2 separate regions of the Homo sapiens genome follow, and region 2 is reported to be linked to region 1. The links are microRNA targets in miRTarBase. Many come from high-throughput screens and were not tested one by one. Region 1 holds a microRNA gene; the other region holds the end of a gene's coding sequence.
The links. The annotated mature microRNA hsa-miR-519d-3p reads CAAAGUGCCUCCCUUUAGAGUG and lies in region 1 at 1,354-1,375, opposite strand. An mRNA with a match to its seed (bases 2 to 7 or 8) in the 3' UTR can be bound and repressed. Matches are read on the target gene's strand: a 7mer-m8 pairs with bases 2 to 8, a 7mer-A1 pairs with bases 2 to 7 and ends in A, and an 8mer does both.

Region 1 (3,196 bases):
CTGGCTTCATGTTGGCCAGGCTGGTCTCGAACAACTGATCTCAGGTGATCCTCCTGTCTCAGCCTCACAAAGTGCAGGAATTACAGACAAGAGCCACCATATGCACACTAGTCCCATATTTAAAATTAGGAAAAAAAAAAACAAAACAAAGATGCCCACACCTGAACAGCAAATCGTTTGTTGTTCAAGTACATCTCAAATACATTGTTTATCTAAAATACAAGTTTAACTGGGGTCAGGTATGAACCAAAGAACAGTCCTTACTTTCTTCTTGTCTGTGCATGGGGGGTTAATATTCACATGTGGTCCCATCTACCAAGGACTGGGGAGGGGCAGAGGCAGGAGGATCTAAGCCCACTTCAGCCAGGGCAGCATAGTGAGACCGCCGTCTCATGCATTTATCTCCTGGTCATGCACCCAGATTTCAGCTTCATTTCCCCAATAAACACTGAAGCCCCATGCACTCCACCTCCGTGCTCTTGCTCATCCCATCTGCAGGGACACTGAGGTCCCCTCAACTCCACCTGACCCCACGTGAGGTTCTATACCAGTGCCAGAAAAATTTCCATAAAGTAAAAGGTGCTGATGGCTGTGCCCGGTGGCTCACGCCTGTATTCTCAGCACTTTGGGAGGCCGAGGCCAGCGGCTCACTTGAGGTCAGGGGTTTGAGACTAGCCTGGCCAACATGGTGAAACCCCACCTTTACTAAAAAAAAAAAAAAAAAAAAAAAATCAAAATCAAAAAGTAGCTGGTTGTAGTGGTGGGTGCCTGTAATTCCACCTACTCAGGAGACTGAGGCAGGAGAATGGCTTGAACCTGAGAGGCAGAGGTTGGAGTCAGCCGGGATCATGCCACTGCCCTCCAGGCTGGGTGACAGCAACACTCCATCTCAAAAATGAATGAATGAATAAAAAAGAAAAATACAAATATTAGCCGAGTGTGATGTCAGGCATCTGTAATCCCAGCTACCCAGGAAGCTGAGGCAGGAGAATCACTCGAACCCGGGAGGTGGAGGTTGCATTGAGCCAAGATCGCGCCACTGCACTCCAGTCTGGGTCACAGAGCAAGACTGTATCCCATAAAAGGACCATCTGAGCCCAACAGGCCTATCTTAAAAAGTGCTTCTCTAGTCTCTCCTGGGCAACAGAGACCTTGTCTTAGAAAAAAAAAAAAACACAAAACAAAACACACACACCAAAACAAAAAACAAAAACCTAACAAACAAAAAAACCAACCAAACAAACAAACAAAAAAACAGACTCCCAACATCATCCAAGTCTGATTACAAGCATGGTCTGCAAATGTATTACCAAGATCAGCATCATCTTCAACGTGGCTTTTCCCAAACGGTAACACTCTAAAGGGAGGCACTTTGTTTAAGAGAAAACAAACAGAAAGCGCTTCCCTTTGGAGGGTCACAGCATGGGATCTTCTTGCTCCAGCACTCTGGGTTTTTTGTTGAAATCTTCCTTGACCAGGTTAAAATGGCCACAACAATAAAGATGCATTTATTGGCCCTGTTTGCCTGTTTTCTAGAATCCAGAACATAAACCCCTAAAAGGACCATCTCCAGTTCCTTTCTTCAAAGGCTCTGCAGGTTAGCCTTGTTCATCAAGGGGCAACCCTCCTGAGTTTTGCCTCTAAAGAGAAAAAGCAATGCCTACTACACATACCTTATATTTAACCAAGAGAACTGGGCTGGATTTCTAGAGAACAGCAATGGACTTTGAGCTGAGTGTTCACTTGAGTTCCAGCACAGGGATACATAGTTCCGATGGGAGCATCCAAAATGGAGTCTAAGATGTTGAAGAATATACATTGTCACACACACAAACATCCTCCAGGATAGACCACAGGCTAGTGGATCACCTGAAAGCGGGAGTTCAAGACTAGCCTGGCCAACATGGTGAAACCCGTCTCTACTAAAAACATAAAAATTAGCTGGGTGGGGCAGTAGGTGCCTGTAATCCCAACTACCTGGGAGGCTGAGGCAGAAGCATCACTCGAACCCAGGAGGCGGAGGTTGCAGTGAGCCTAGATCATGCCAGTGCTCTCCAGGATGGGCAGCAAGAGTGCAGGACACGATGGTGGGTGCCTGATGCCTGAATTCCCAACAATTCGGCAGGCTGAGGTGGGAGAATCACTGGAACCCGAGAGGTGGAGTTTCCGGTGAGCAGAGATCCTGCTACTGCACTCCCAACGAAACAAGAGTGTGTCTCAAAAAATCAAAAAATAAAAAGAGGACCACTTAAGCCCAAGAAATCTTGGTGGAAGGTGCTATCCACCCACGCCTGGGCAATAGAAAGCCTGTCTTGGAAAAATTTCAAATCACAAACAGAACCCCGACATCATGCAAGTCTGATGATAAGCACGCTCTGCAAATGTATTACCAAGATCAGCAGCATCTTCAACGTTGCTTGTCTCAAACAGTAACACTCTAAAGGGATGCACGATCTTTTCTTTTATACAACAGACAGTGCTTCCATCTAGAGGGTCACTGCCTGAGATCTTCTTTTTTTTGACACGGAGTCTCACTCTGCCGCCCAGGCTGGATGCGGTGGTGGGATCTCGGCTCATGGCAACTTCTGCCTCCTGGGTTCAAGCGATTCTTCTGCGTCAGCCTCCTGAGTAGCTGGGATTAGAGGCACCCACCACCATGCATATTGCATATATGACTGCATATATGACCTGGTCATGCACCCAAGATGTTGGTTTCATTTCCCCAGTGAAAACTCAAACCCCATGCACTCCACCTCCGTGCTCTTGCTGAGCACATCCCATCTGCAAGGGACACTGAGGTCCCCCTTTGACTCTACCTGACCCCACATGAGGCTTTATAAATCAGTGCCAGAATAATTTCCATGGACTAAAAGGTGTTAATGGCCATGTGTGGTGGCTCACGCCTGTAATCTTAGCACTTTGGGAGGCTGAGGTGGGCAGATCACCTGAGGTCAGGAGTTCGCAACCAGCCTGGCCAACATGGTGAAACCCCGCCTCTGCTGAAAATATAAAAATTAGGCCAGGCGTGGTGGCTCATGCCTGTAATCCCAGCACTTTGGGAGGCAGAGGCCGGTGGCTAACTTGAGGTCAGGGGTTTGAGACCAGCCTGGCAAACATGGTGAAATCCCATCTCTACTAAAAAAAAAACAAAAAACAAAAAACAAAAAGTAGCCAGGTGTGGTGGTGGGCTCCCGTA
Region 2 (3,000 bases), not on the chromosome of region 1:
CAGGCTGCCCTGGGAGGAGAGCTGTGGGACCGCCTCGCCGGCTGAGAGCCATTACCTGCCGACCGTCGGCAAGTCAGCCTCACACCCACTGGACTCTGCTCCCAAGAGCCCAGGCTGTTTTCCTCAAAGCTAGCCTCTTTTCCAGTCATCGATGGATTAGTCCTGATGGCTGAAGTGCTGAGCAGTGTCTTCGTTGGACCAGTTTTTTATTGTCATTTGAGGTGGAGATCAGAGATCATGACCAGAAGAGTGTGAGTGCTGTCCCTTGCCACCAACTTCCTAGAGATTTCGGGCAGCACTCTACAGCTTCAATTTCCAAAAAAAAAAAAAAGTTTACACGACCAGTGAGACTGCTCGCAACTTTCATCACTTAGCATATCCTTCCACAACACAGTACAGTAAGTGGACTGCAGGGTGGCCTGGTGCTGAGGGTGATGGGTGCAGACGTACACCTGTCCAGGTGCAGGCTCAGGGGCCTCGCTGGATCCTTCCCACCTTCCCCAACTGCCTACTGGCCTGGCTACTGGATAGGTCCTATTCTGTACATAATGGGGGTTTGTTGACAGGTGGCTTTATAGCAAGTACTCCAAAAAAGGTAAAAGGAATTTCACAAGTTTGGCACGCAAAGGCTGCACAGATCTAAAGAAAGGCCTTTGTAAAGGTGAATGCAAACTAATGTTGAAACATGGAAATGTGACTTTAAAAAAGAGGGAAGGTGAGGAGCTGGACGTGGAGCAAGTGGAGGCAGGGAGAGGCTGGCCAGACAGCCTCCCTTCCTGGGTATCTCAAGATCCCAGGTGTCGGCGTGGTCCAGCCACTGGAAACACGTGGCCAAGAGTCTGCTTGCCCCTTGCTGTGTCTTTACACATCTCCAGGCCCTTACTGATGTGTGGACCGCATGTGGAGGAGACATGAGTGGCGACAGCAAGCAGCAGGCCGGGTGGAAAGCCAGAAGGGGAGAAGGTCAACCCCTTTTCTGCCCTGTGAATTCTAGCAACTGTCGGTTGGAAGTCACTTCATTGTCTCACCCAGGCCCGAGACCACAATTTCCCTGGAAGGACACAGCCCATGGCAAAGACATGCTTCGAGAAGGGATGAGTTGGACAATGCCAGTAAGAAGCCAGGCTGTCCAGAAAAGCTGGTGCCCAAGTTGCTACAAAGTGGTGCCTGCCCTTGCCAAGGAGGCTGTCTCTTAGTCGCCTTGGGTGTCCTACAAGTTTCCTCCGAAAATGCCAAGAGGAAACCTCCACTTTCTGGGGTGAAACGAGGAACACGAAGAGACCCATGGAGGTCGAGGCAGGGGCAGCGTTGAGCTTTGGTGAGTTATTGCTTTCTTTCAATTTGTCTTGATGCCTTCGAGAGGCTGGAGGTCATTTGGACTCACCTATGAGGAATCTCCGCTCCCTGCCCGAAGCCCCACCTCTGTGCTATGCGAGTGACTGCAAGCAGGAAGCTGGCCCAGGAAGGCAGGCGTGAGGGGGCCCAGCTCCTGCGGGTGCTCCCTGGAGTGATGTCTGAGGTGACGGCCATCCAAGCTGGTGATCTTCATGGTGTGTGCTCAAGGTGTGGGTGACGGGCGTGTGTGTGTGGAGGGCAGCCCCCCTTCTGTGGATTTGCCTCTGCCATCTTTTTGAGTTATTTTCTAATGGTTTGTAGCTTAGAAAGTAGCCATGTTTTCAAGTAGTGCCGGCACAAGAGCTGCCTGTGCACGAGGGACTTTTCTGCTGGAGCCAATCTGGGAGAGGAGGAATAAAAACGAGCACATCTCAGGTCTCGACGCATCTGTTAGCTGTGTACTCACAAAGCTGTGGCGATATGACTGCTGCTCAATTAAGATTTCTGGTGAAATGTTTAAGCTTTTTCTCCAAGAGCTTCCAGCATCAAGTACAAAAGGATGATCCTGAAGGAAAGATGAAGCTGGTTTTAACGGCGTCTGTGAGCTGCTTTCCCTGCACACGAACAGAAGCTCTTACCTTACAAACAGAAAGGGAAAAAGGACCTTAAAAAACCATACACAGACTCTAGCAAAAGCCAAATTCATGTACATTTCACTCCGTCTAAAATGCAGTCCCGGAAACGCTCCACGGTCCTCTCCTGCCTCTGCACGCAGGCAGGCAGCCTGGGGGGCTCCTGGGTGCTGCCAGGAGCCGTGTCCCATCTCCCCAGAGGGACCGGCCATGGCCCTGGTCACTGTGGCATCTTCCCAGAGCAACTGCGTCTCGCTGCCCAGGGAGGTGATTCCATTTGTGATCAGTGAGAGGGAGAGGGAATAAAGTGCTTCTCGTAAAAATGACCAAAATAAATACACACATTTAACGGCAGAAAAGAAAGTCTTGAAAGGGTTATTTCCAAAGAGTTTGTCTCCTCCGACCCGCGCTCCTTGGACTTTTGGAAAGACAGGATTTCCCCACACCAGTTGAGAGGCTCAGCTTGGCTGAGGCAGCTTTCCCACCCCTGGCTGCGTGTTCGGTCCCTGGTCTGTAAACCTGTGCCCAAGCTGCCCCAGACCCTGGAGCCCCGGGTTCCGCAGGCCGGGCTACATGGCCTTCATGCCGTTGGCCGTGGCACCCTCGGGCAGTGTGTCACCCGCGGCTGCGGCATCGTGGAGGCCCGAGTAGTCCTTGAGCTCGGCGTTGGTGAGCAGCAGTGGCTGCTCCCCCTTCTTGTGCGGCAGCAGCGGCTGGCGCGTGTAGTGCTCCCCGTTAGAAATGTTCTCAGGCAGGTTCTGGTCCCTGCTCTCGGGCAGCAGGAGGATGCAGATGATGCAGATGAGCGTGCAGCAGGCAAAGATGATGTGGTGCAGGAAGTAGCCTTTCTGGTTGTGCAGCTCGATGATGGGTGCCGTCAGCATGCCGAAGCCCGCGCTGGCCAGCACCAGCCCCAGCCCGCCACACCTGCAGGGGGAGGGAAGCACAGGGATTGCTGCTGTGGGCTAGCGGGCTGGATCCCGGGAAAGCTCGGGGTGGACCAGGAAGCCACCTCTGCAGGGGCCCTGCTGCC

Region 2: the mRNA of SLC22A23 is a reported target of hsa-miR-519d-3p. Seed matches in the 3' UTR shown: 8mer at 2,271-2,278.

The regions. Positions count from the first base shown.
Region 1 is chr19:53,711,579-53,714,774 of GRCh38, reverse strand. MIR519D (microRNA 519d) reads right to left here and starts at 1,428; the gene lies at 1,341-1,428. MIR517A (microRNA 517a) reads right to left here and starts at 2,507; the gene lies at 2,421-2,507.
Region 2 is chr6:3,270,519-3,273,518 of GRCh38, forward strand. It overlaps SLC22A23 (solute carrier family 22 member 23), which reads right to left. Exons shown (of 10, transcript NM_015482.2): 10 at 1-2,894. The coding sequence ends at 2,537. Among named protein-coding and RNA genes, the nearest start is that of PSMG4, 13 kb to the left of the region's middle.